7 linked regions of the Homo sapiens genome follow. The protein of the gene in region 5 purifies or fractionates together with the protein of the main gene of each other region. This does not show direct contact. Each region holds a gene or a part of one and is shown on either strand. Other genes may lie near its edges. The genes, in order: GULP1, TRAPPC6B, EDC3, DCTN6, CCDC102B, USF2 and UACA.

The links.
Region 1: the proteins of CCDC102B (region 5) and GULP1 purify together in Homo sapiens (affinity purification with mass spectrometry; one large-scale study listed by BioGRID and IntAct). This does not show direct contact.
Region 2: the proteins of CCDC102B (region 5) and TRAPPC6B purify together in Homo sapiens (affinity purification with mass spectrometry; one large-scale study listed by BioGRID and IntAct). This does not show direct contact.
Region 3: the proteins of CCDC102B (region 5) and EDC3 purify together in Homo sapiens (affinity purification with mass spectrometry; one large-scale study listed by BioGRID and IntAct). This does not show direct contact.
Region 4: the proteins of CCDC102B (region 5) and DCTN6 purify together in Homo sapiens (affinity purification with mass spectrometry; one large-scale study listed by BioGRID and IntAct). This does not show direct contact.
Region 6: the proteins of CCDC102B (region 5) and USF2 purify together in Homo sapiens (affinity purification with mass spectrometry; one large-scale study listed by BioGRID and IntAct). This does not show direct contact.
Region 7: the proteins of CCDC102B (region 5) and UACA purify together in Homo sapiens (affinity purification with mass spectrometry; one large-scale study listed by BioGRID and IntAct). This does not show direct contact.

What each region holds. Positions count from the first base shown.
Region 1 is NC_000002.12:188,591,873-188,596,030, forward strand, and holds the end of GULP1 (PTB domain-containing engulfment adapter protein 1), read left to right. Parts: intron 1-2,067; coding exon 2,068-2,139; 3' UTR 2,140-4,054; downstream 4,055-4,158. UniProt on the Homo sapiens protein: May function as an adapter protein. Required for efficient phagocytosis of apoptotic cells. Modulates cellular glycosphingolipid and cholesterol transport. May play a role in the internalization and endosomal trafficking of various LRP1 ligands, such as PSAP.
Region 2 is NC_000014.9:39,163,554-39,167,711, forward strand, and holds part of TRAPPC6B (trafficking protein particle complex subunit 6B), read right to left. Parts: intron 1-4,158. UniProt on the Homo sapiens protein: Component of a transport protein particle (TRAPP) complex that may function in specific stages of inter-organelle traffic.
Region 3 is NC_000015.10:74,685,648-74,689,805, reverse strand, and holds part of EDC3 (enhancer of mRNA-decapping protein 3), read left to right. Parts: intron 1-2,626; exon of another isoform or gene 2,627-2,715; intron 2,716-4,158. UniProt on the Homo sapiens protein: Binds single-stranded RNA. Involved in the process of mRNA degradation and in the positive regulation of mRNA decapping. May play a role in spermiogenesis and oogenesis.
Region 4 is NC_000008.11:30,159,258-30,163,415, forward strand, and holds part of DCTN6 (dynactin subunit 6), read left to right. Parts: intron 1-4,158. UniProt on the Homo sapiens protein: Part of the dynactin complex that activates the molecular motor dynein for ultra-processive transport along microtubules.
Region 5 is NC_000018.10:68,800,732-68,804,889, forward strand, and holds part of CCDC102B (coiled-coil domain-containing protein 102B), read left to right. Parts: intron 1-4,158. UniProt on the Homo sapiens protein: During interphase, forms fibers at the proximal ends of centrioles to maintain centrosome cohesion. During mitosis, dissociates from the centrosome following phosphorylation to allow centrosome separation. Contributes to CROCC/rootletin filament formation.
Region 6 is NC_000019.10:35,271,440-35,275,597, forward strand, and holds part of USF2 (upstream stimulatory factor 2), read left to right. Parts: intron 1-4,158.
Region 7 is NC_000015.10:70,662,429-70,666,586, reverse strand, and holds part of UACA (uveal autoantigen with coiled-coil domains and ankyrin repeats), read left to right. Parts: intron 1-1,772; coding exon 1,773-1,925; intron 1,926-4,158. UniProt on the Homo sapiens protein: Regulates APAF1 expression and plays an important role in the regulation of stress-induced apoptosis. Promotes apoptosis by regulating three pathways, apoptosome up-regulation, LGALS3/galectin-3 down-regulation and NF-kappa-B inactivation.

The sequences.
Region 1 (4,158 bases), on a different chromosome or scaffold from region 5:
TTTAATTATTTAATCATTCTTTTGTGTGACGTTAGCTTATGATAATTCCCATCACTACATAAGTAAATAAAGTCTCATTTTTATTAAGAAGTTTGAAGCTCAACAGGTGTGGGAAATTTTATCTGAGGAAGAAAGAAAATCAAGAAACCTTATAATATGTAAGGATCCTTAAAAAGTCAATATGGAGATAGATATTATTGTAAGTCATATACTAACACTTTATTATTAAAATAGTGATTGACCTCTGTTTTACTTTGGCTGCTATTCTGCTTTTCCAATATTGATAACACATTGACAAATAGTATTTTCAGGGTAATTGAAGTGATACTGGTTTACTAGCAGAATGAACTGATAAAATTTAAAAGTACCGTATGGTATCAAACATTTCCACATGTAACTCTCTTTCTATCTGTCATTATCTATCAATGTATCATCTATTTACCATTTGTAATATACCAGAAGATGACATAATATACAGATCTTCAGATATCCAAATAAAATAATTTTAAAGAAAAGTTTACTTACAGTATTTTAGTTTAAAGTATTTATTTTTCTAAGTATTTGCTGGCTGTTTGAAAAATATAAATAAATATGGCAAAATGTATTTTGTGATAAGAATAGATTTTTAAAAAATAATGATAAGTAGTCTCATATTTACTCAACTAAATAAAGATTGTATTCCAAGTACTGGAAAGACATTTTGAAAAACTTTCACAATGATTACATCACTGTAATTGCTATATAGTAGTAGTCTCTGTGCTGTAAACATAAAGAATATTCTTTGAACATTAATAACAAATAAAGTATGGCTTACAGCTTTGTAACTACCTTCCTCCTCTATATGATGATGTTTACATTGGATTTATAGAAAGATAAGAACATTTACATAATTATTCTAAATAAAAGTAATTTGGAGAGATGCAAAAAGATACCCAATTAGCTAACATACAAGTAGATATAGTCAGTCCAATTAAATAAAACACCCAAAGCAGAGGTGAAAACCAATGGTTACCTTTAGGAGACATTTTGTTTTCTTTAGGAATACACTGCTATCTGCATATTATTTGCCAATAATGTGTTGCATGGCCACTCCAAATTACAAATTACCTTTCTGAAACATTTCAGTTCTGTTAGTAAGAAAAAAAAGGTAGAGTATGTAGAGAGCACTACCACATTTGCTTCTACAAGGAGACCTACAATGTAACCTCCACTTTCATTGATCAGTGCAAGTCTGTGCTTTTCATCTTTTTGTAGGCCAATGTGTATAGATTTACAGGAAAGGGTAGGAATGGGGAGAGGTGGCAAGACTGGAGATGGCCCACAGTTCAATTATCTTATGCAATAAAAAAAAAAGAGATTGGAGTGAAGGAGGACAGACTCCTATGCCATTATTTTAATTCAAAATCTTGGTGGAAAAACACTTTCTTAGCAATTGTGTTCTTATACTCAATAAATCATAGACAACTTAACTTCTAAAATATGCAAGGAAGAGTAGGAGTCAAAGAAGCCAGTCCGCTACAAGCAACAGCAAGGCTAGTAGGGGAAGTTTTCTCCATGGCAAAGTAATCTGCAGTTGTGTGTTCCACAGAGGATACGGCATTGCATTTAAAAGAAGTATTTTACCCGGGCTCTGGTCAGTGCTAACCAGGAATAAGGTGAAAATCATCAGGCTATCTTGAACCTCTCATCAATTTGAAGCCTAACTATCTTAATAATATTTAAATTAATAATAATTTTTAAAGCTAACAGATTTCATTTACAATAGAATGATGTAGTAACTAGCCTTTTCTGAAAAAGAAACCTTTATCTTAATTTTATGTTTTCTCTTCTGTCTCTCATGCATGCTAACCTCACATAGATTTAAAACATTAAAGTGTTAATGGGTCTGAAAGAACTACCAGTGCTATACACCTATATAAAAATTCAGCAAGTCAACATTTGACATATAGTTATTTATTAGTTGATCAAAGCATGAATATTTCAACTTTAGTGCATAGTCTTTTTTATTCACTGATTTTATTTTGCTGTAAGCATTTCAGATATTAATTATTTTATTCTGTTTTACAGGAGGGGTTCAAAATGGGACTAACTCTTGAAGGCACAGTATTTTGTCTCGACCCGTTAGACAGTAGGTGCTGACATCAAGAACAAGAAATCCTGATTCATGTTAAATGTGTTTGTATACACATGTCATTTATTATTATTACTTTAAGATAGGTATTATTCATGTGTCAATGTTTTTGAATATTTTAATATTTTGAAAATTTTCTCAGTTAAATTTCCTCACCTTCACTATTGATCTGTAATTTTTATTTTAAAAACAGCTTACTGTAAAGTAGATCATACTTTTATGTTCCTTTCTGTTTCTACTGTAGATGAATTTGTAATTGAAAGACATATTATACAAATACCTGCCTTGTGTCTGAGTTCTATTTAGTTAGCATCTTGAAATTTGTATTCATTTTCCAGATGGCTAGTTTATTAATGATTTCCCAAAAGCCATACCTTAAAGATAACTTTTTAAATTCTGAAGAGACATGCCAATGTCAAACTAAACATGTTCTGTTTTTAAACCAACAAACATGTTACTATTCATTGGACAGATATCATTTTATGTATAAATACTGTTCACATCACTGGGAAAATGTAAACTTTAAACATAATGCCACAAGGTCACTAATTTCTAGCAGGTAAAATTATAAGGATATAAATTCCAATAATAAACCAAATGTATTTAGAGTATTTATTAGTAAATGCAAGGTGATGTTAGTTATGATCAGTTATACTCTAAATATTTAATTTGTTTTATAAAGGTAGTGAAAAAATGAAAATTTGCTATTTATTAAAAAACATTAAATTTCATTCCAAATGAGATAAGTGATATTACTATAACATCTAAGCATCATCTGATTTGATATTCCCTAAAAAACATTTGGAATATATGCTATCTATAGATTCAGTATCTACTACCCATATTTACTTTACCAAATATATTTCTCCTCACTGCATAAGGACTACTCTTCTCATATTTTCTTCTTTGATGAAGATATTTTTCACCAAAGTTTATTTTGTGATGCCCTCTTGGTTTTGATACTTTAAAATCTGTGGCACCCGTTCTACATGAATTATCAATATTTGGTAAATTCAATCTGTATTTGTTTTGTTAAAGTCAAAAATCTCATTTTCCAAAAAAAAAAAAAAAACCCAGTTACTGCTCAGTTTAGTCTTGAACATGAGCAATAAAATTCTCTTGCATTTCATTATTGATGTGCTGATGAACCTGGACTTTTAAAAATATTTGTTTCCTATACCTTTACCCTTTACCTAACAGACTAATTTGTACTCAGTAAAACAAAAATTTATGGTCAAAATTTCTAACTTGGTTCATCACATTATAAGATAAATAAATTAAATTAATGAAAATGTGACTTAGAGTAGGGGTAGCCCTCAAAAATAGATTTATCATTTACTCATTGGAATTTTCTTCAAGTGTTAAAGGTACATTTTCACTAGGAAAAGAAATCAAATATGCTTATGCAATATATATTTGTGTGTTTTTCCTTAATGTTATATGGTATATATGAGCCTTCTTGTTTAGTTTCTTTTATCTGCTAAGTTGTACCTTAATTAGAGGGCAATATATGTTTCATAAAGAAGAGTCTTTATAATTTTGTTTGTCAGATAGTATTTTGGAATTTGTATAATAAGGATGTTTAGAAGCCATATAAGTGGCTTTTTTTAACAGATAGAATTTGTATTTTTATTGTACTTTAAAAAGATTTATGTAATAGGTATATATTTAGTGGCCATTTATTATCAATGGTAACACAATGGAGTACTAAGATGGTATTTGCACATTTAAGATATGTTACTTTACCAATTTTTAATGGTAATCAACTCTGCTACTGGCATGATGAAATAGTACATAACTGGTCATTAATTATGAACATTTATTTCTCCAGTGCGTTTTTATGAAGATCTGGTTGAAAATTGTATTTCTATGTAAACTCAACGATATGTTTGGTTTTCCTGAAAATAAATGATTTTAAATAAATTAAATTGCATAATTCATTTGTTAAATAATCTCTAATTAATACAGACACATTCTGAAGCTAATTATGTAACAGATTTTCTTGATCATAAATGGAGATAAAAGAA
Region 2 (4,158 bases), on a different chromosome or scaffold from region 5:
ACAGAACTTCTTTCACCATTTAATATACCATACATTTTACTATTTTATATTGCCCATGTGCCCCTTGTTCCCCTCTCTGCTAAAATAAAGCTCCAAAAAGGCAGGGATTTTTGTATATTCTGAAGGCTGTTTGTCTCCCACTAAGGAAACCATAGGGCTTATTATTTGCTAAACTTTCTTCTAAGGAACCATGCACTCTGCTTATGGTGCTGTGACTATTAAATCTGCGTTTCTAGTACAGACTTTATTGGGCATAGACATCTAGTGGTCCCACAGGACCTTCGAAGTATGCATATTCAAATGATATTCATTTTATTAATGTCTTCAGCCTGCTCTGCCTCCAAAATTTCCTAACTTCATTAATGGCACCACCATTCACCTAGTTACTCCAACCAGAAAACTTCCATTTTCTTCACCCCTGTGCTCCCAACCCCCCATACACTGTAGTCCGGTGGAGCCTATCTTTTACAAGCTTTTCAAAATTCATCGTCTCTCTCTACCCTTACTTCTTAAGTAAAGCCTTATCATTTCTCTCCTGGTTTTTAGCTATAGCTTTCCAACTGGTCTTGTCTCATTTTTTCCTACTTTGTGTCATCTTCTATATTTCTGGTAGTGTAACTTCTACTAAAGTAAATTTCTAAAAAAAATCATGTTATTCTCGGCCGGGCATGATGGCTCACGCCTCCTAGCATTTTGGGAGGCCGAGGCAGGCGGATTACCTGAGGTCAGGAGTTCGAGACCAGCTTTACCGACACGGAAAAACCCCATCTCTACTAAAAACATAAAACATTAGCTGGGCATGGTGGCGCATGCCTGTAATCCCAGCTACTCGGGAGGCTGAGGCAGGAGAATTGCTTGAACCCAGGAGGCGGAGGTTGCAGTGAGCCAAGGTCACCCCATTGCATTCCAGCCTGGGCAATAACAGTGAAACTCTGTCTAAAAAAAAAATCATGTTATTCTCTACTGGAATTTCAGCACCTGCTCCCCTTTCTTCAAAATAAAGTCCAGGCCTGATGTAGTGACTCATGCCTGTAAATCCCAGTACATTGGGAGGCCAAGGATTGCTTGAGCTTAGGAGTTCGAGGGCAGCCTGGGCAACATAGTGAAACCTCATCTTTAAAAAAATTACAAAAATTAGGTGAACATGGTGGCATGCACCTATAGTCCCAGCTACTTGGGAGGCTGAGGTAGGAGGATGGCTTGAGTGCAGGAGGCAGAGGTTTCAGTGAGCCAATATCTAGCCACTGCACTCTAGACCGGGCAACAGAGTGAGATCCTGTCTCAAAACAAACCAACAAACAAACAAAAAATAAAGTCCAAACTCCTTAGCATGGCATCATGGTATGTCCTTTCCTTAAAGACTCCTGGCTAGTTAACCAAATTCACAAACATCCTTCCCTTTTACCACTCTGAAATTTCTGCAGCAACTCCAGAGTGCCATGTTCTCTTCTGTCTCCCTGCCTTTTTATGTGCTATTCCCTAGACTTCACATTCTTTTTTTTTTTTTTTTGAGACGGAGTCTCGCTCAGTTGCCCAGGCTGGAGTGTAGTGGCGTGATCTCGGCTCACTGCAAGCTCTGCCTCCCAGGTTCACGCCATTCTCCTGCCTCAGCCTCCTGAGTAGCTGGGACTACAGGCGACCGCCACCACGCCCGGCTAATTTTTTGTATTTTTAGTAGAGATGGGGTTTCACCATGTTAGCCAGGACGGTCTCGATCTCCTGACCTTGTGATCCGCCCGCCTCGGCCTCCCAAAGTGCTGGGTTACAAGCGTGAGCCACCGCGCCTGGCATTCACATTCTTTAAATTCTGCTCAAGTATTACATTCTCCCAGATGGCTTCCCTGAAACTTCCTTAGGCCCTATGCTGTCGTAAAATTCTGTACATACATCTATTACTGTACGTATCACTATCTTCAGTTTTTCTGCTATTCTCCACACTTCTCAAACATGCTTAGGATGAGGCCAGGCGCAGTGCTCATGCCTATAATCCCAGCACCGTAGGAGGCTGAGGCAGGAGGGTCACTTGAGACTAGGAGTCTGAGACCAGCCTGAGCAACATAGCAAGACTCTGTTTCTACAAAAAAAAATTTTTTTAATTAGCTGGACATGGTAGCATGCCCATAGCCCTAGCTATTCGAGAGGCTGATGTGGGAGGATCACTTAAGCCCAGGAGGTCAAGGCTGCAGTGAGCCAAAGTCCCAACACTGCATTTCAGCCTGCATGACAGAGCAAGACATTGTCTCTCTCTCTCTCTCTCTGTTTTTTTTTGAGACTGAGTCTTGCTCTGTCACCCAGGTTGGAGTGCAGTGACACAATCTCGGCTCAATGCAACCTCCGCCTCCTGGGTTCAAGTGATTCTTCTGCCTCAGCCTCCCGAGTAGCTGGGACTACATGCGTGCACCACCACACCCAGCTATTTTTTGTATTTTTAGTAGAGACGGAGTTTCACCATGTTGGCCAGGCTGGCCTGGAACTCCTGTCCTTGTGACCTGCCTGCCTTGGCCTCCCAAAGTGCTAGGATTACAGGCCTGAGCCACCGTGTCCAGCCTCTTTTTTTTTTTATTTAAATAGAGACACTGTTTCACTATGTTGCCCAGGTTGGTCTCCAACTCCTGGGCTCAAGTAATTCTCCCACCTCAGCCTTCCAAAGTGCTGGGATTTACAGGTGTGAGCCACCACACTAACCCAGAGACTTGTCTCTTAAAAAAAAAAAAAACAAAAAAACAAGTTCAGCTAGAATAAGTGTCTGTAAATCATGATGCTCTTTTTGGAATAATCTGCTCTCTGTAGAATCACCTAGGAACATATTTATTAGCAGGAACTATTGAAACCACCTTTGCAAAGATTGTAACAGTAAGAAAATCATGACTGTAAAAGAGATCTCACCTAATCAACTCCATCTTGCCTTTAACCTCCAAGCTGCCCTTGGTCATTTCTGGATGCAGCCCAAGCTAACTTTGGGAGAAATTTAGTTTATAGTGTAAGCTTAAAGCAAGAATGATAATAGCCCTTCCCGAAACTAAATCACCTTTGCAAAACTAATGAAAGACTATAAGGTTAGGCTTATGAGAGGGGTCTGAATTCTGCTAAAATGTAGGTAGTTAAATGATAATCAGACATTATTCTGGAAGTCACAGATTTGTAACTTCCCCAATTACTCCTGTAAATAATATCACTATTGTAGAACCTAAAAAAGGCCTTTTGAGATGTCTTTTCAGACTTTTGCATTTCGGATGACTCCAACTGGTCCTCTGGCCCCCACCTCTGTAACTGCATCCCCAACCAACCAGGAGCACCCATTCCCCAGCCCCCAGCCTACCAAACTATCCTTGATAAACCCTAGACTCTGCATGTTTGGGGAGGCTGATTTGAGCAATAATAAAACTCTGCTCTCCCATTTAGCAGCTCTACATAAACTCCTTATTGCAATTCTCCTGTCTTGATAGATCAGCTCTACCTGGGCAGTGGGGAAGAAGAACCCACTGGGCAGTTACAATATGCTTATATGCAGACACTTTCAAATCCTATGATCACATGAGCTTTTGAATTAAGCCCTACTACTTAATTTTGCTACTTGTTCATGCACTTTTGAGTAGGCACCAAATTTTTAAGAAAAATTCAACTTGAGAACATTTTATCCATTAGCCTTTCAAAATCCATTCACCATAAATTGAGAAATGCCCAATTAGTCCATTTTAAGAGAATTCCTCTTTAAGCATAGTTTGAAAAACCTTGATTTGGAGGGTTAGAACACTGTTTCTTTCTTTTATCTCACCTCAAGTCTTATGGAAGTTTATTTTGCTATACTGAAAATTTATAAAACTTTATTTCATTTAAAAAAACTTTCCATAACAAAAACAAAAAAAAAGACACATAATCCTGTCAGCGAGAAATGGATTTTATAGGTCTTTTCAGACATAAACAACATAGTTTTTACAGATCTTTTTATGTCTGAAAAAAATCTCTAAAAATCACCTCTGGATGACAGGATTATGTATCTTTTACATTTTTCATGATGAAAAATTTCAAGCACACTCAAAGTATGGACACTAATGTGAACCCTTATATACCCGTATTTCAGTATGGGTTCTGATTATGAAGACTACCACATAACTGTTATTTATATAATTTTTGCTTATTATGTACTTTCAATTTTCC
Region 3 (4,158 bases), on a different chromosome or scaffold from region 5:
ACGCCTGTAATCCCAGCACTTTGGGAGGCCGAGGCGGGCGGATCATGAGGTCAGGAGATCGAGACCATCCTGGCTAACACGGTGAAACCCCATCTCCACTAAAAATACAAAAAATTAGCCGGGCGCGGTGGCGGGCACCTGTAGTCCCAGCTACTCAGGAGGCTGAGGCGGGAGGATGGTGTGAACCCAGGAGGCGGAGCTTGCAGTGAGCTGAGATAGTGCCACTGCAGTCCGGCCTGGGCGAAAGAGCGAGACTCCGTCTCAAAAAAAGAAAAAAAAAAAAGAAATGGAGGGAGAAGGAAGACAAATAAGACTAAATGAACTTTGGTAGCAAGTTCTTGACTGAATAGTAATTCACAACATCTCTGAATTCAGTAGTCATTACAATTTTAGGAATAATTTATTGGGAGAATAACAGTATCAATGAAGCAAGAGTAAATAAGAAGTATGTTTAAGAAAATACCAAAACCATTGCACCCCACCAGAATGAGTAAGTTGAAGAGAACAATAGTACCAAGTTTTGGCAAGATGAGGAGCAGAAAGAACTCACGTATGGTGGGTTGTATAAATGTAGATGGTAATACAAAATGGTACAACCACTTTGGAAAACTGTTCAGTGGTTCCTAATAAAGTCATAAATATAACATGACTTCCTGTGTTATATGCCCAGTAGAAATGGATGTATTTGTCCATCGCAGAAATATACTGTATACAGTTTAAGAATATTATTTGTAATAAGTCAGAACTAGAAATAACCCAACTATGTATCAGCAGTAGAATGGATAAATACATTGAGGCATGCTTACAGAAAACAGCACAGCTATGAGAAAGAATAAACTTCTGATACATGCAACAATGGGGATGAATCTCACAAATGTACTTTTTTTTTTTTTTTTTTTGAGACAGCATCTCGCTCTGTCACCCATACTGGAGTGCAGTAGCAGGATCTTGGCTCACTGCAACCTCCGCCTCCCCAGTTCAAGCGATTCTTGTGCCTCAGCCTCCTGAGTAGCTGGGATTACAGGCATGTGCCACCACGCCCAGCTAATTTTTTGTATTTTTAGTAGAGACAGGGTTTTGCCATGTTGGCTAGATTGGTATTGAACTCTTGACCTCAAGTGATCCACCCGCCGTGGCCTCCCAAAGTGCTGGGATTACAGGCATGAGCCACCATGCCTGGCCTCACAGATGTACTTTTGAGCAAAAGAAGACAAACACTCTGAAAGAGAACCTTTATGATTCTGTTTATGTGAAGCTCAAAATCAGGCTCAAATAATCTTTCATGATAGATGTCAGAATAATAACTACCTGTAGGAGGACACAATGGAGCCTTTTGAGGTGTTGGAAATAGTCTGTCTTGTTTTGAGTGGTGGTCACATGGGTGAATTGATATGTAAAATTTCAGGGAGGTGTACACTTAAAATATGTAGACTGACTTACTGTATATGTTATACCTTGATAGAAAAGTAGAAAATAAAAGACAAGATTGGTTCCTTGTAGCTCCTGTATCTCCTGTACTTCTTTTGACGTGGAGGTGTTAGCTGTATAATTGATGGAGCCCCTTCCCTAGTCCGATTAGGAACCCAGTTGATGGGCACTGTACTTGTTTTAGATTTACTGTTTTCTGTAAATAGCATAATTTTCTTTATAGAATAAACCTGTTTGAGGAGTTTTGAATAATGCTATTTTACCAAGGGAAGTTTCTGAGGAAAGGGAAGTTTGTTACACATTCAGTGGTTATATTTTTAAAAGTTTCTATTAATATTAACTACATAGAAGAACACTTATAAACGAGTATCCACATTTTCAAAGTGTTAAAAATTCTATTCAGTTACTACTACCATAATATAAACTTGAATGCACAACATCAGTGTCTTAAAGATATATGTTAAATAAAACAGTAAAAGCCTTTTCATATCTGGTTAATTTCTGGTGCTTTTTATTCTGCATCTATCTAAGCATCTGAGTAGAATTATGATGGATTATAAATGATAGGAAAGGAAACTCATGCTTTTGTGACATTAGGCAAAGGTTGATCAGGAAGGGAAAAGAAGCCTAAAATGTGTGTATTTTGTGCTTTTTTACCATCATCATTATTGTTGAAATTGTGTTGCATTGAAAATTTACCCAAGGGCCAGGCACAGTGGCTCATGCCTGTAATCCTAGTGCAGAGGCTGAGGTGAGCAGATCACCAGAAGGCAGGAGTTCGAGATCAGTCTGGCCAACATGGTGAAACCCCATCTCTACTAAAAATACAAAAATTAGCTGGGTGTGGTGGCGGGCGCCTGTAGTCCCAGCTACTCAGGAGGCTGAGGAAGGAGAATTGCCTGATTGAACCTGGGAGGCAGAAGTTGCAGTGAGCCAAGATTGCGCCACTGCACTCTAGCCTGGGCGACAGAGCAAGGCTCTGTTTCATTCTATAATAAATGTAACAAAAAAAAGCCTGTATGAGCCTGCTAATTCATTGTTCTTTTAATCTTCGGTTCTGTCCGCATAGTTTTATGATACTGGCTCAGTTAGATCACTAGAGAACTATCTAGAGTTTGATTAATCCCTAGAGCTGGACTCTTTCAGACTTAGTGTTTCTAATGGGGCATACTGTTTTTTGTTTTTTTTTTTGAGACAGGGTCTTGCTGTGTTGCCCAGCCTGGTCTTGAATTCCTGGACTCAAGTGATGCTCCTGCCTTGGCTTCCCAAACTCCTGGAATTACAACTGTGAGCCACTGCACCCAGCCAGGAGTGCTTTATTTTTATTTATTTTTTATTTTTTTCTAGACGGAGTCTTGCTCTGTTGCCCAGGCTGGAGTGCAGTGGTGCGGTGTCGGCTCACTGCAGGCTCCGCCTCTTGGGTTCAAGCAGTTATCCTGTCAGCCTCCTGAGTAGCTGGGATTACAGGTGCATGCCACCATGCCGTCCACGTCGGCCTCCCAAAGTGCTGGGATTATAGGCGTGAGCCATTGCGGCTGGCCTGGAGGAGTGCTGTATATGCTTTTTTGCCCCTTTCCCTTCATTTATGTATTTATTTTGAGACAAAGTCTTGCTCTTGTTAGCAGGCTGGAGTGCAGTGGCGCAATTTCTGCTCACTGTATCCTCTGCGTCTTGGGTTCAAGTGGTTTTCCCACCTCAGCCTCCTAAATAGCTGGGATTACAGGCACCCACCACCACACCTGGCTAATTTTTGTATTTTTAGTAGAGATGGGGTTTCACCATGTTGGCCAGGCTGGTCTCAAACTCCTCAGGTGATCCACCTGCCTCGGCCTCTGAAAGTGCTGGGATTATAGGAGTGAGCCACCGTGGCTGGCCTATTTAATTTTTTTTGAGATGGAGTCTTGTTCTTGTTGCCCAGGCTGGAGTGCAATGGTGTGATCTCAGCTCACTGCAACCTTCGCCTCCCAATTTCAAGTGACTCCCCTGCCTCAGCCTCCCAAGTAGCTGGGATTACAGGCATGCACCACCATGCCCGGCTAATTTTTTTTTTTTGAGACCGAGTCTTGTTCTCGTTGCCCAGGCTGGAGTGCAATGGCACGATCTCAGCCCACTGCATCCTCCGCCTCCCGGGTTCAAGCGATTCTCCTGCTTCAGCCTCCTGAGTAACTGGGATTACAGGAACATGCCACCGCATTTGGCTAATTTTTGTATTTTTAGTAGAGATGGGGTTTCACCTTGTTGGTCAGGCTGGTCTCGAACTCCTGACCTTGTGATCCACCTGCCTCAGCCTTCCAAAGTGCTGGGATTACAGGCGTGAGCCACTGCGCCCGGCCAATTTTGTATTTTTAGTAGATATGGGGTTTCATCATGTTGGTCAGGCTGGTCTCGAACTCCTGACCTCATGTGATCCACCTGCCTTGGCATCCCAAACTGCTGGAATTATAAACGTGAGCCCCCACACTCAGTCAGGACATACTCTTTTACCAGAGGGGTGCTTTATATGCTTTTTTGCTCCTTTATGTCTGAAATTAGTATTTGAAAACAGTTTCAAGTGCTGGTTTCTTTTTTTAATGTAAAAACACTGAACCAGTGTTTCACTTTGTGCTTAACATGTGTATTTATATTCATCTGCTATCATCTGCTAGCTGTTTTCTGACTTCCTCGTGTGAGTGGGGAAGTGTTAGGTTTCATACCTTATATAGGATTTTGCATAGAGTATGCCCAAGGATA
Region 4 (4,158 bases), on a different chromosome or scaffold from region 5:
ACATGTTTTTTTGTTTACTTAGAGCTTTAAAAATTCATGGCGGTGTGAAGGTTTGTCCACCCTAATTTGTGGAAGAAAAATTTGTGTATGTCTTCTTTTTTTTTTAGTTCATCACACCAGTAGGGAAGTTGGTACAATCTTAAAAATAGTTTTCATCTTACTTTGCATGTATATTAGGGAATACTTGGGGGGAAGATTCTGGCATAGAAATGATGGAGAGACATGTTAATGAAAGAATCTTTACCCTTCTGACTCTCAGAGCTGTATTTTTAGAACTCTCTTATGAGCTTCAGAATCTGTATTTTCAGTCGCTTATTGGATATATCTGGTGACCATTCCATAGATACCTCAGACTGAGTTTATCTAAAATTTAGCCAAATGACTTTTTTCTCTAAAATCTACCCCTCCTCCCATAGGCTATTCTCAGATGGTGCCATTAGTTTTCCAGATCAGAAACCTAGAGGCTTTGACCTTGCTCCCTAGCTCCAGACTTTTGATTAGTTTTCTTTTTTTTTTTTTTTTGAGACAGGGTTTCACTCCATCACCCAGGCTGGAGTGCAGTGGTGCAATCTCAGCTCACTGCAACCTCTACCTCCTGGGCTCAAGCGATCCTCCCGCCTCAGCCCCCCAAGTAGCTGGGAGTACAGGTGTAAGCCACCATACCCAGCTAATTTTTGTATTTTTTGTAGAGATGGGGTTTTACCATGTGACCCAGGCTGGTTTTGGTTGTTTTTCTGGCATAAGTGAAGCAGAGTCACAGCAGCTGATTTTGAGCCCTGGAATTTGAGCTTCCCTCTCCATCAGGAATCATCCCTTCCCAGGAAGGGGACAAGATGGCACCAGTTTCCTTATTTCACTCCATGCCCCTCACACCCATCCTTCTGTAGTTGATATGGTTTGGCTGTGTCCCCACCCAAATCTCATTTTGAAATGTAGTTCCCATAATTCCCACATGTTGTGGGAGGGACCAGGTGGAGATAATTGAATCATGGGAGCCGTTTCCCCCATCCTGTTCTCATGATAGTGAATTAGTTCTCATGAGATCTAATGGTTTTATAAGGGGCTTCCCCCTTCACTGGGCACTCATTCTCTTCCCTGCCACCATGTGAAGAAGGACGTGTTTGCTTCCCCTTCTGCCATGGTTGTAGGTTTCCTGAGGCCTCCCCAAACATGCTGAACTGTGAGTCAATTAAACCTCTTTCCTTTATAAATTACCCAGTCTCAGGTATGTCTCTATTAGCAGTGTGAGAACAGACCAATACACTAGTCAAACTTACTTCCCCTGCACAGAGAAGAAAGCAAATATAGTTTGCTCTTTATATCCATGGGTTCCACATCCATGGATCCAACCAACCTCAGATCGAAAATAGGAAAAAAAAATTGTGTCTGTAAACAATACAGTATAATTATTTACATAGCATTTACATTGTATTAGGTATTGTAAATTATCTAGAAATGACAAAGTATGAGAAGATGTGTATAGGTTTTATGCAAACACTGCAGCATTTTATATCAGAGACTTGAACATCTGAGGACTGGTCCTGGAACCAATCTCCCACAGATACTGGGTACTGAGGGATGCGACTGTATGCACTTTGTGGTCCATGGGGCCTGTAACAAGGAATGGGAAATACCTACCTTCAACGTTGCCTAGAAACCAGATTTTTATTAAATGTGTTTGTTGCCAAGTCTTGTTTCTATTTCCTAGACATACCTGCAGCTTCTCCTATGTGCTACCAGTGCATTTGATATGGTTTGGCCCTGTGTCCCCATCATATCTCATCTTGAATTATAATGCCCACCTGTTGAGGGAGGGACCCGTAATCCAAGTGATTGGATTATGGGAGTGGTTCCCCCATGCTGTTCTTGTGAAACCTGATGGTTTTATAAATGGTAGTTTTTCCTGCGCTCACACTGTCTCTCTGTCCTGCTGCCTTGTGAAGAAGGTGTCTGCTTCCCCTTTACCTTCCGCCATGATTGTAAGTTTCCTGAGGCCTCCCCAGTCATGTGGAACTGTGAGTCAATTAAACCTCTTTCCTTTATAAATTACCCATTCTCAGGGAAGTTCTGTAGAGCAGTGTGAAAATGGACTAATACAGCATTTCAGGCCTGCATTATCTCTGTAGGATTAGACCAACTGCCTCCCTGACCCCCCCCACCACCAAGTACTTCTTCATACAAGTGTCAATTATCTGCATACCATTTGGTGACATTGTTGGCTTGGGAATAGGAATCCTTCAGTGACTTCTTGCCTACAGGTGCAAATTCAAATCCCTGGTCATGGTGTACAAGCTTATTCATGGGCTGATCCTGCTTTTCCTCCCAGCCTTACCTGCTCCCTTTCTCTTCATGATTTTTGTGCTTCTTCTCATTCAGTGATGTCCAACCTGGGAGGGGGGAAGAGGTTTTTACTTTGTTACTTACCAGTCTTTGCTTAGATGTATGCATATGGTATTTAAAAATAGATAGAATAGATAAAATTGTGTTTTAATTTTTTTTTTTTTTTTTGAGACAGAGTCTCACTCTGTCGCCCAGGCTGGAGTGCAGTGGCGTAGTCTTGGTTCACTGCAAGCTCCACCTCCTGGGTTCACACCACTCTCCTGCCTCAGCCTCCCAAGTAGCTGGGACTACAGGCGCCCACCACCACGCCCGGCTAATTTTTTGTATTTTTAGTAGAGACGGGGTTTCACCGTGCTAGCCAGGATGGTCTCGATCTCCTGACCTCGCAATCCGCCAGCCTTGGCCTCCCAAAGTGCTGGGATTACAGGTGTGAGCCACCACGCCCAGCCTTAATATTTTTACATAAGCATTCTTGCACAAACATTTACACCTTTCTTTTCTTTTCTTTTCGAGATGGAGTCTCGCTCAGTCACCCAGGCTGGAGTGCAGTGGCGCTACCTCGGCTCACTGCAAGCTCCGCCTCCTGGGTTCATGCCATTCTCCTGCCTCAGCCTCCCCAGTAGCTGGGACTACAGGCCACCACCATGCCCGGCTAATTTTTGTATTTTTAGTAGAGACGGGGTTTTGCCATGTTGGCCAGGCTGGTTGGTCTCAAACTCCTGACCTCAAGTGATCCACCCACCTTGGCCTCCCAAAGTCCTGGGATTACAGGTGTGAGCCACCATGCCCAGCCCAAAACTATTGTATTTCTGTATACTGTGACAATTGGAAATCAAAATTTTGAAAAATCCAAACAAAATTACAAAGACAAAATATCTAAAATGTTAGTGTTATTTCATAGTAGCTGAGAGCAGATTTAACACCATGAATGTCATTGCCATTTAGAAAAATTCTTTTATTAATGAAAAGAAGTTTCCTAATAACTATCACTGTAATGGAGAAGTCATTTGATGTACTTCCTCATGTCAGCTCATGGTTCAGCTAGGGTCAGTGTTTACATACAGCTTTGTCAAACAAAAGATAACAGCAGAATATAAAAAAGCATCAATAAGTTATATGGAAATTATTAGAGTCTTTTGAAGAATTTGTACTACAATTTATATTACTTGGTAAAAAGTTTCTCATATATGTGTATGTATATATATATATGAGAGTAAACAGAAACATTTGTAAATTTTAAATTTCTAAGTTAGTATTACCTTGCTGGTTGTTAAATAGTTTGAATGTATATTTTTTCTTCCTACCTTTACAAAAATAATGGCATATTACATACTGTCCATTTTCTCACTTCACTCTTTTTTACTTTTAACAATATAGCTTGGAGATCATTCCATATTTTTTTTTTTAAGAGATGAGGTCGCCGGGCACGGTGGCTTATGCCTGTAATCTCAGCACTTTGGGAGGCTGAGGTGGGTGGATCACCTGAGGTCGGGAGTTCGAGACCAGCCTCACCAACCTGAAAAAACCCCGTCTCTACTAAAAATACAAAATTAGCCAGGTGTGGTGGCACATGCCTGTAATCCCAGCTACTAGGGAGGCTGAGGCAGGAGAGTTGCTTGAACCTGGGAGGCAGAGGTTGCAGTGAGCCGAGATGGTGCCATTGCACTCCAGCCTGGGCAACAAGAGTGAAACTCTGTCTCAAAAAAAAAAGATGAGGTCTCACTATGTTGCCCAGGCTGGTCTTGAATTCCTGGGCTTAAGCAGTTCTCCTTCCTTGGCCTCCCAGAGTGCTGGGATTACAGGTGTGAGCCACTGTGC
Region 5 (4,158 bases):
GGAATGACCAAGTTATTATCAAATAAAGGCATTGTATAAGTTTCATTTCAATAGGTGAAAAGCATAAATAAAATTCACATTGTAATAGATAGTGTGAAATACAGTACATTCACAGTAAAAAAGAATAGAACTTATTTATTAACATGTTTTCCTTCATATATCCAAACCTTAAAGACATTACTTCTTCTCAAAGTAGAACTAGTATCTGGGATAACATTCATTTTCTTCTTCTTTTTTTTCAATGAAATAAAAATTATAGCTTATTTCATAACAACGAGGTTTTTTTGTTCAATGTATACATGATGGTAACTATGCTATCATTTTATGAACATACTGCCTACTAGTTTAGAATCATACTATCATTAAGTAGGCTTTACTGAAGGAGTATCTTTTTGCCGTACACGAAAACAGATGAGGATAGTTGAAATGCAAAGATTTGGTCACTGACCTTGAGATTTTATTTTTGTACAGGTTTAGGTTGCATTCTAAGAATATATTCTATAGAAGACATTTTGTATAACTAGTGCTCCATCCTCAGTGCCCTGACTAATTGTAGATGCTCAATGGAGATTGTGAGCTTGAGACCTTGATTGTAAAATGGAAAACTAGATATTGTATTGGAGGTTGTGCTCAAGGCCATTTAATTGTAGTCATAGCTTTGCAAAGGACTGTTAACATTATTATATACTTAAATATTATCCAAGTTGATTTATATTTAATGATATTTCCTAAAAGAATTGCTGTTGTGTGTCATAAATATATTAAAATATTTGATGTTAAAATTTTGATAGAAGGATTTTTTTAGTAGCTAAAGAAAAAGGTGTCCTTAATATTGAGAAAAAAAACATATGCTCACTGAAGAATTTATAAATATATCTTATCATAGTGTCTGTTTCAAATTTGTAGAATTAAAGTTTCCAAAAATAAAAGTGAGATTTTTAGTCACTGACTCGGGAGCATATGTTTCTAAGCTGCAGTAAACGTTTGGAAATATAACACAGGTAAAGAGGCAATAGTTGCATGAAGAAAAACCTGTAGCAACTTTAGACTCATTTTCATTTGGAAATAGTTTTGAGAGTCTTTCATACAATCTTTCCTTTCCTCCCTTAGTGAATTTAGGATTGTGAAGGCATTAGGTGAAAGATTACATTTATGACCTCTGCAAAAGATCAAATAGTCTTATTAGTCAGCCTATATTCATGAATTTTCTATCTTCTTTTGACATGAAGGGTTTTGAACAAGCGTTTCTTCTCTGGATGAGAAGAAAATGTATTTCACAATAAAACATGAAAATTATAAGGTGCTCAGTGGGATTATAACATTTGGTAGCACAGGAAAAAAGAGAAAGATGTGGAAGTGCCATAATCCATTGGTGTTTCATATAATTCTAGAAGGTTCTGGTTATAACCTGTTCCTAATTTGGAGCTAGAATAATCTCAGGGATTGTCTGAGGGTTCAGGTGAGCTTTGTTCTATCTTTGTTTGGAAATCACTTTACAGGTATTGTCAATGGTAGGAATGAGTTGGGTCAAAGCAACTACGTAGAGTCCCTGCCATCCTATTTTTGATACTGCCCAGGCTTCTTCATTCTTTTTGTAATAATGAAACTTAAGTTATAGAATTTATGATTGCATGGATTAAAAACATGGATGTTGCAATTATGTCGTGCTACAAGTGCCCTCTAAAGGTGTTAATGCTATATGAATTTACTTGCTGGCTTTTATGTTTTTGATATGTTTTTATATTTTATGTTTTTGGTATCAGGACTAAATAAATTTGACCTGATAATGTAGATTAATGGGAGAAATTCCAGTATTCATGGATTAGAACTAGGAGGGCTATCTCAGATACAGGCTTCTCACAGAAGGCTGGGGCCTAAGCATAGGTACTGAATGCAAAGCTCTGGTCCTGGACCTCACATGGTCCATTCATTGTCTATGGTTGGCCGTCATTGTTTCCTCTGTGGCTATAAGTTTCTTCCATATTATTGAGCAGGATGTTTATCTGAATTAATATAAATGACATATTCGAGAAGCATAGATCTTTATCCAAAACGATATCAGAAGTAGAAATAGTGCAGAAGACAAACTCCACCTCCCATCTGCTGATTCTTTTGAAACCCCTTGGTCCTCTTATCTCTGAAAGGGATACATGGCTTTGTTCTCCCAAATATCCTATCCACTTTCCACGCTGTTTCAAAAGTATTTCTGGCCAAATAAATGTAAATCTTCATCTTTTGTATATACAGATAATCATCATAGGTGTATTTGTGAATTATTTAAGTACTTGGAAGAATGAAGTTGCTGATAGCAATTAAAGTGGTGTGATTGGGGTTAACCTCACTTAAAACTGTTTCTTTATTAATTTTAAAAGCCTATAAGCGTTTAATATCTAAAAGCCACCTTCTTTAGAGAAGACTGACTTATTTAGTGGAACTTGTAATGCTTGCCTTTTGGAAGAAAAGGAATAGTTCTAAGTCACTCTGTTTTAGATTTGTCCATTTAGTAATAAATGTCTACCATGTCTCAGACACTGTTCTAGCAATGGAAATAGAGATGTGAATAAAAAGTAAAACCCCTTTCTTTACATTAAGCATATAGTCTAGCTGGTAAAGCAGTAGAATCCATACATAGTATATAAATATATATTAAGTCATGATAAGTACTGGAAGAAAAAAAGAACATTCAGGCTAAAAGGGAATAGAATATTTACACACTCTTGAAATAACCAGGGAATGTCCCTTCTGTTAGGGTGAAGGATGTAAGATACTTAACCACGAGGAATCTTGGCAGAAGAGAAGTATAAAGGAAATCACATGTGCTAAAGTCTTAAGTCAGAAGAATGTCCCTTCAAGGAATGGCCAGATGGCCGGCAGCTGCTGGGAATGAGCGAGGCAGGGAGGCACAGGCAGAAGCTACTTTAAGAGGAAGTAAATCCAGCTTAAGCTTCAAGATATTAGGGTGGTGCAAAAGTAATTGCATTTTTTGCCATTACTTTCAATGGGAAAAATCACAATTACATGGTCACCAACCTAATATTATTTTACTTTTAAAAGGGCTCTTCATACCCCAACTGTAGGAGCCTCAGGTCGGGAAATCATGGGTCCTGATGAAGAGTTCAGGGATGGTTTATGTTTAGATCATGACAACATCATAAACTACAACCACTTTATTCTGAGTTTGATGGGAAGTCATTTGAATGTTGGGATCCTAGAAATATTGTAACATAAGTTGAGTGTTCAAAGCATCCACTCGGCTGTGCTGTGGAGAACATACTGGAGTAGGGAAAAGGTAGAAGTGGGGAGGCCAGATACCATACAGTATTCCAGGCAAGAGACAGGGTGGTTTGAAGGAGATATTAGAGATGGAGTTTTTGTAATTCTGCATAGGCTGTATTTCATATTTTCCTGCCAGAACTGATGGAGTTTCCAACAATGATGTGCAATGAAGAGACAAAGGAATCAAGGGTAACCCCTAAGTTTGGTCTGTAAACCTAGAAGAGTGAAATGTGCATTTATTGACACAGGGAACACTGTGGAGGAGCAGGTGTAGATGTGAGGGGAGTTCAAGTGTTTGTTTTTGAACATGTGAAATCTGAGATGCTGATTAGATATCCTTAGTGATGTTAAGTGGGCAGCTGGACACGTGAGATCCCAGAGATAAAGGAACATCTCAGGCCAGAGATATGTCTGTTAGGAAATTTCAGAAAATTAATGAATTTGAAGTCAAAGGCCTGGATGCCTTCACCCAGAGCAATTACCCCAGCCTGAAGTCTCAGTGTTGGAGCGCTTGCAGTCAGAGGTGTGAAGCTGAGACAGAATGTGGGGCAGCTACCAGGGAGTAGGAGGAGAACCATGAGAGAGGATGCCCTCAGAAGCCAAGAAAGGGAATGATGAAATGGACAATCACATACAGGGCTTCTGGTTGGCCAAGTAAAACAGGAATTTCAGGCCTGGAATTGACCATTAGATTTGCAATGTAGAAGTCACTGATTTCCTGTTTTTGTGGCAAACTAGAGTTGAAAATGATACTGCGACTTCAAGAGAAAATGAGATAAATGAAAGTGTCTTTAAAATAATTTTTATTTTAGAAAATGCCAAAGATATGGAATGGCTGCTGGGTTGGGATCAAAATCTTTTTTTTTTTTTTTATGTTGAGGG
Region 6 (4,158 bases), on a different chromosome or scaffold from region 5:
CCACTTGAAAAATGGGGCTGACCGGGCTCACGTGGGCTGACCTTTCCACGTGGCAGCTGTCATGCTCACATCCCGCACTCCCATGCCTGCCTGGCCTCCAGAAGTAGGTCTGTTCCCCCAGGGAGCACATCTGAGGGAGAAACTGCATGAAGTTCTGCCTCTGGCTACCTAAGGCCGGAGCATCCTGCCCTTTCCAGAAACACCAGGTCTCACCTCAGGTCATTTGGCCTTCAGCACTGTCCCGCCCCGCCTGTCAGTAGCCACTGCAGTGGGCACAGCACTGTGCAAGTGCCAGGAGAGTGCTTACACCCAAACAACCATCATTCAACAAATATTTACTGCCCGTGGGTTCTGGGCTGAGCGGCACAGGCCCTGTGCCAGGTCTGGAGTCTGGCCTGGAGCGTCAGGGAGGCTCAAAGGCCTGAGGGCTTATGTCTCATGGGTCTCATGGGACATTGATGGGGGGTGGGCTGGGGTGACGCTTCCCTAGGGAGAGGGGAGTGTGGGTCAGGTTACTTTGTGGGGTGCTGGTTTGGTTGTGGGAGAAGTTCCATTTAGAATGCCTCAGGAGGGAAGATCGGGAAGGCCTCGAATGCCCGAGTGAGGGGCTGAATGCTGAGTCCTAAAGGTGGTGATGGGACTGGGGTCTGTGGCCCAGGTAGTTGTGTTCTGAGCAGCTCCTCCCTGAGTTCAGGCGTTCATTCAGCGCGTGCATACTACGACCAGCCCCCCTTTTGCGTCCTCAGATATGGCAATGCAGCAGATGATAGGACAGACAAGGTCTCAGCTCTCTGTGCGCGTTCTGGTGGGAGAGATGGGAGTCACACAGCCGCATCAGGCAGTGCAGGCAGTCACAGGCAGGAGAGGAAAGCTGGGGAAGAAGGTGGCGGGTGATGGCGGCATGGTAGTGTGCTCTGAAGGGCTCTTCGAGAGGTGACATTGAAGCAGATCCCTGAAGCGACCTGAGGGAAGGGGCCTGTTGAGAACCTCAGGAGAGTCCCGGGCAGAGGGAAGAGCTAGAACACAGGCCAGGCCCTGAGCCAGGGCCGCCATGGTGTGTCTGCAGAAGAGCAGAATTCAGGAAAGGAAAGAGGAAGTTGGCGCAGTGGAGGGGGCTGCCCAGGCCAGATGGTGGAGGACCTTGGAAGAAGTCCCCAGTGTGGCTGTCTGGGCTCCTGTGGTTTTATTCCAGGGTGATGAGAAGCCAGCAGAGGGGTTTGGGTTGTGGAGGCTGTTGGCAAGAGTGGTGGGAAGGGGCTGGGAGGTAGGAGACCATACGACTGTCAGGCCTGAGACAGGGCAGGGGTTGGGGGAAATGTGGGGAGGACTCCAAGGCTGGAGAATAAGGGTTTCGTGCTGAACTCCCCTCCATGCTTGGAAGGGAAGGGGTGCATCTGAGCTTGGTTTTGAGATGCAGTGAGTTTGAGGGGCCCCCAGAGCAGCCCCAGCCCCACGACTTACCTGTGGTGGGGCGTCAGGGTGGTTCTTAATCTCCGTACCTGTCTTCCCTCTGTGAAATGGTGGAAGCACAGCCGCCCCGGGCACCTGGTGGGGATGCAGTGAGTCTTGGTGGCCACACAGTAAGGCGAAGAGAGGACTCAGAACCCTCCCACCCCACTCTCACCCCCGCCTCTCCCTTAGTTAATCTGACTCCAGGCAGCCTTGAAACTTTCTCACCCTGTGAAGCAGTCTTCATCACCTGCCCACTTCTCCAGCTCCGTCCTGTCTCCGCTTTCCTGACTTGCAGAGCATCTGCCCCAATCTGCTCATCCTCCCAGTACCCTCAGCCATCTGGCTCATGGCTCTACCAAAACAGCTCCACTTCCGGTCACCCGTGGTGACCCCATTGCCACATCCACTGGCCTCCTTTGCTGTCTGGGCTCCAAGCATCTGATGCTGCCTGTTTCCCTCTGTTCCTTTCTGGAATCTTCCTTTCTCCTCCATCCTCTCTGATTCTCCTGTGATCTTTGCCTTTCCTACCCCACTGTTAACAGTGAAATTTCCAGGGCTGTCCCAGTTCCAAGTGAGTAGATGGGGGTGCCGGGGAATCTGTGTTTTCCATCAGCTCTTCAGGTGATTTGTCATAGTGGACAAGCTTGAGAAACTGCTTTGGCTGCGAGTGTTTCTTTTTTTTTGAGAAGGGGGTCTCACTCTGTCACCCAGGCTGGAGTACAGTGGCACAATCACAGCTCACTGCAGCCTTGACCTCCCAGGCTCAAGCGATCCTCACACCTCAGGCTTCTGAGTGGCTGGGACCACAGGCAGGCGTCATCACATGGGGTAATTTTTTTTTATCTGTAGAGTGGAGGTCTTGCTATGCTGCCCAGGCTCGTCTTGAACTTCTGGCCTCAGGCAGTCCTCCGGCCTCGGCTACAGGCCTGAGCTGCCACACCCAGTCTTGCTGGTGTTTCATAAGGTCCGGCCCCTCCCGTCGGCCTCAGGTGTATGACTTGTGAGGCCCAGCGATGGGCTCGGAAGCTCTTGGTCAGTATCCCCCAAACTCTGTTCCCCCTTGTAGGTGTTCCTCTTTTTTCTTTGCTGCAGAAGAGTGTGTGACTCACAAAAAGTTGAGGACTGTTCCTTGATGTCCTCCCAGGCTTCGCCCACCACCTGGCTCCTGGTAATGCAAGGAACTGTGTTTCCATCCATTCCCTTCCTTTCACTGCAACTCCAGCCCCACGTTTTGAACTACCTATTCGAGATTTCTGTCTCTGGACATCCCTGTAATGCCTCAAACTCAACTCGCCCAAAAGAGAATGTGCCATCTCCCGTCTCCAAAGGCTTTCATGCAACCTTCTTCTTTGCAGAGCAGCAAAAGCTACCCCTGTCACAGCTGCCCAAGCCAGAAACTAAGACCAGAGCCGCTTTCAACTCTGCCCTCTTCTTCCCTTATGGCCACAAACCCCAAGTTTCTCTTCTGTGGTGATTTCAGATCCGCTTCTCTCACTTCTTTTTCCCTCCTTCCCACCACTTCTTGGTACTGCAGGAGCTTATCCCAGAGTCACAGACTCAAATGCCTGCAGGGGCCTGAGGGAGGGAGGTGCACTTGGCATCTCAGGAAGGGGTGTGTGGCTGGGTGTGGTGGCTCCCGCCCGGAATCCCAGCACTTTTGGGATTACATTTTGGCCAAGACGGACGGATCACTTGAGCCCAGGAGTTTGAGACCATCCTAGGCAATGTGACAAAACCCTGTCTCTACCAAAAAAATTAAAAATTAGCCAGGCCTGGTGGTACATGCCTGTAACAGTCCCAGCTACTTGGGAACCTGTGGTGGGAAGATGGCTTGAGTCCGGGAGACAGAGGTTGCAGTGAGCTGAGATTACCCTCCAGCCTGAGCAACAGACCCAGACCTTGTGTCAGAAAAAGATAGGAAAGGTTGTGGGGGGCCCCCAGTGATCTGGGGCATGTGTGCGCTGCCTGAAGGGTGGCCCTTGCCCAGTGCCTTCCCCTTGCTGCCCTGTCAGAATCTAGGGCCACTGTTGCCAGAAACTCTGAGAAGCTAGAAATCGAGACTTATGTGAAATCTGATTTTTAGGTGCCAGATTAGATTGCTTTTTCCGTTTCATTGATTTCTACTCTTAATGTTACTAATTCATGCTTCTACTCACTTGGTTTTTTGTTTGTTTGTTGTTTTGTTTTGAGATGGAATCTCGCTCTGTCACAGTGGCGCAATCTCAGCTTACTACAACCTCTGCCTCCCCGGTTCAAGTGATTCTCCTGCCTCAGTCTCCCAAGTAGCTGGGACTACAGGTGCCCGCTGCCACACCTAGCTAGTTTTTGTATTTTTGGTAGAGACGGGGTTTCACCATGTTGGCCAGGCTGGTCTCGAACTCCTGGCCTCAGGTTATCCACCTGCCTCAGCCTCCCAAAGTGCTGGGATTACAGGAGTGAGCCACTGCACCCGGCCCCTTCTACTCACTTTGGATTCAATTTGCTAGGTTTCATGCTTTAGCTTCCCTGGCACACCCCAACCCCAGCTTTTTAAGGTAATTCTTTTTTTTTTTTTTTTTCCAATTTTCTACTAAAATCTTTATTTTACAGGATTAATGTTTCACAGCAGGGATTGAGATGATTCTTAACCTTTCTCTTTGCTTAACAACATTTAGAGTTGCCAGTTCACTCCAGCATCACTTTAGCTACATCCCACTGGGATATGTT
Region 7 (4,158 bases), on a different chromosome or scaffold from region 5:
CCGAATTGAAAAAAAAAGTGAAGTAACACAAAAGTCAAAAGCATTTTTCCTTCTGTTTCTTTAGCTGTTCTAGCCAAGAATTCAGGAACGATGGGGAGACTTAAGGCTCACTTGTCTCATACATGAAGAGTCAAAAGCCAGTGGGTTTGTGGCATATGAAAGATGGGGAAGAGGGTGGTGGGGAAGCTCTCTTTCTGGGCTGCAAGAAACCAAGAACACTGGGGAGCATCTAGAGTTGATCTCGGTACTCACCCATAGTAGTAAACTGAGCCCTCCAATTCATTTTATGTTCTGTTGCTCATGTCTTTCTACAGACTAGAAAGTCTACATCCCCTCACCCAGAATGTCCTTTCCCTCCTTTCTACTGAGTTGAATCCTATACATTCATTAACATGTTATCCTCCTTCTTAAAGCCCTCACTGTCCAATCTAGTCTATAGTAAACAGTTCCTCCTCTAAGGTGGATGTTTTACTGTGGCTTTGCCATCCATTTAAAACATTTATATTACCTTGTTAGAATTATGTAGTTGATCTTCCCAATCAGTTTTTATGAGCAGGGTTTATAACTTAACTTTCCATCTTAGCTTTAATTCTCATGGTACAATTTACAGAATAGGTACTCAACAATATTTTTGACACTGATGTTGCATAAAGTTTTTACTATGGATATGACATATAAAGATTGGCTGCAGTTTTATCCATTCAACATGTAATGATTAAATGCCTTCTGCATGTCATGTGCTGGGGATACAGTGGAGTAAACACAGACACAGACTGCCCTCCCCAGTGGAAAGTACTTGTACATACTGTCCTCTGGCACACCATCTCTGTGATTGAGAATTTAAATGCTCTAAGCTTGTTCAGAAGGTACCTATGAATATATATAGTAATATATAAGAGTTAATTATTAATATCTACTTGTTGCCATTTATTGAGCGGGTGCATGTAATTGCATTTCATTTTCTTTGTTTTTTTTCTATTATTATTTTTCAATAAAAAATTTTGTGGGGGAGGAGATGGTATCTTGCTCTATTGCCCAGGCTGGTCTTGAATTCCTGAGTTTAAACAATCTTCCTGCCTTAGCCTCCCAAAGTGTTGGGACTATAGGTGTGAGCCACTGTGCCCAACCTGATTTTCTTAACTCTGAAAGATTGTCCACCTTTCACCAATGTGGAATCTAAGGCTCAGAAAAGTAAATTAGCCAAGCTCATACAAGTTGACTCTGTCTGACTTTAAAGCAGGGTGGAAAAATGCTATGTTTCTAGGCACTTCCTATTCCTATAAACAAGCCTCCTTGTTTTTTTTCTCTCTACAACAAAGTGGTCTTAAATAATACAACTCTTGAAAGGAAAAAGGAACATATGTTAATCCTAGACTTACACGGGCCACACCCTTTTACTTTTCACACTTTGTTGCTGGGAATCCCCCTTCCCTTCCTGTGTTCCATATGTTACCTGGAAGATAGTTCATGTGCCTTCGTAGATGCTTATATATTAGCTAAAAGTAAGACTATGTTTATACTCACATCTTAGGATATATGTAATATTTATTCTTAATTTGGTATTGCTTTTGTAAATAATTTCTGGAGAGGGATTTAATTATAAATTACATATTGTATACATCCTTGGTAACAGTCTTGGCAATATTCATACCTCAATTTTCTGGTGTATAAAGATAAAGCTTCTGTCTCCAAAAAGGAATGATTTCTGTACAAAGATGTTCATTGTACATGATAAGTGAATAATATATTTCTCCTACAACATTTTTTTAAAGATAACTGAACTGCTTAATGATGTGGAAAGATTAAAACAGGCACTCAATGGCCTTTCCCAACTCACCTACACAAGTGGGAACCCCACCAAGAGGCAGAGCCAGCTGATTGACACTCTGCAGCACCAAGTGAAATCTCTGGAGCAACAGCTGGCCGTGAGTAACCAGGCACACGGGGCTTTGCAGGAATATGTGCTGGCTCCCTGTAGTTAGTTTGTAAGGCTCATTTAGAAATTAAAGTGCTCTGTAGCTATGTTCGGATCCAAGAATATAATTATTTTTATATGCGAAAAGTTACCTATACTGGTGGTGTAATAATACTTATTTGATGCCTACTATACACCAGGCACCATATTAAACATTTTACGTACTTTATCTATAAACTTTATCTTCATCATGATCTCACAAAGCAGATTTATTCCCTCCATTTAATTCTTAAGGAAACAAAGAATAACATATTTGATGCCTGGGGTCATTCAGCTGGGGTATAAACCTGGAACTGGCTGACTCCAAATCCAGCATCTTTCTCATTGCAGGGTGCTCTCTAAAATATTGGTCCACTAAACTAAAGGAGGTTTTAAAATAATCTTTTATCTTTGTGAATAAAGAGGCATTCCTATGGTTTTATACCTTATATAGAAGGATAAGTGCCTGGATTTAGAAGCTAATGTTGGAAGGTCTGGTCTAAGTCCTGCCACTTACAAGGAAGTGGCAAGGAACATTCCCTTTAACTCTTGGTTTTCTCATCAAGAAAATAGAATAATAACTGATTACTTGTTTACATTTATTATTATTTTTATTATACTTTAAGTTCTAGGGTACATGTGCACAACGTGCAGGTTTGTTACATATGTATACATGGACCATGTTGGTGTGCTGCACCCATTAACTCGTCATTTAACATTAGATATATCACCTAATGCTATCCCTCCCCCCTCCCCCCACCCCACAACAGGCCCCAGTGTGTGATGTTCCCCTTCCTGTGTCCATGTGTTCTCACTGTTCAGTTCCCACCTATGAGTGAGAACATGCAGTGTTTGGTTTTTTGTCGTTGCGATAGTTTGCTGAGAATGATGGTTTCCAGCTTCATCCATGTCCCTACAAAGGACATGAACTCATCCTTTTTTATCACTGCATAGTATTCCATGGTGTATATGTGCCACATTTTCTTAATCCAGTCTATCATTGTTGGACATTTGGGTTGGTTCCAAGTCCTTGCTATTGTGAACAGTGCCGCAATAAACATATGTGTCTTTATAGCAGCATGTGTCTTTATAGCAGCATGATCTATAATCCTTTGGGTATATACCCAGTAATGGGATGGCTGGGTCAAATGGTATTTCTACTTTGAGATCCCTGAGGAATCGCCACACTGACTTCCACAATAGTTGAACTAGTTTACAGTCCCACCAACAGTGTAAAAGTGTTCCTATTTCTCCACATCCTCTCCAGCACCTGTTGTTTCCTGACTTTTTAATGATTGCCATTCTAACTGGTGTGAGATGGTATCTCACTGTGGTTTTGATTTGCATTTCTCTGACGGCCAGTGATGATGAGCATTTTTTCATGTGTCTTTTGGCTGCATAAATGTCTTCTTTTGAGAAGTGTCTGTTCATATCCTTCGCCCACTTGTTGATGGGGTTGTTTTTTTCTTGTAAATGTGTTTGAGTTCATTGTAGATTCTGGATATTAGCCCTTTGTCAGATGAGTGGATTGCAAAAATGTTCTCCCATTCTGTAGGTTGCCTGTTCACTCTGATGGTAGTTTCTTTTGCTGTGCAGAAGCTCTTTAGTTTAATTAGATCCCATTTGTCAATTTTGGCTTTTGTTGCCATTGCTTTTGGTGTTTTAGACATGAAGTCCTTGCCCATGCCTATGTCCTGAATGGTATTGCCTAGGTTTTCTTCTAGGGTTTTTATGGTTTTAGGTATAACATTTAAGTCTTTAATCCATCTTGAATTAATTTTTGTATAAGGTGTAAGGAAGGGATCCAGTTTCAGCTTTCTGCGTATGGCTAGCCAGTTTTCCCAGCACCATTTATTAAATAGGGAATGGTTTCCCCATTTCTTGTTTTTGTCAGGTTTGTCAAAGATCAGATAGTTGTAGATATGTGGCATTATTTCTGAGGGCTCTGTTCTGTTCCATTGGTCTGTATCTCTGTTTTGGTACCAGTAGCATGCTGTTTTGGTTACTGTAGCCTTGTAGTATAGTTTGAAGTTAGGTAGCATGATGCCTCCAGCTTTGTTCTTTTGACTTAGGATTGACTTGGCGATGCAGGCTCTTTTTTGGTTCCATATGAACTTTAAAGTAGTTTTTTCCAATTCTGTGAAGAAAGTCATTGGTAGCTTGATGGGGATGGCATTGAATCTATAAATTACCTTGGGCAGTAT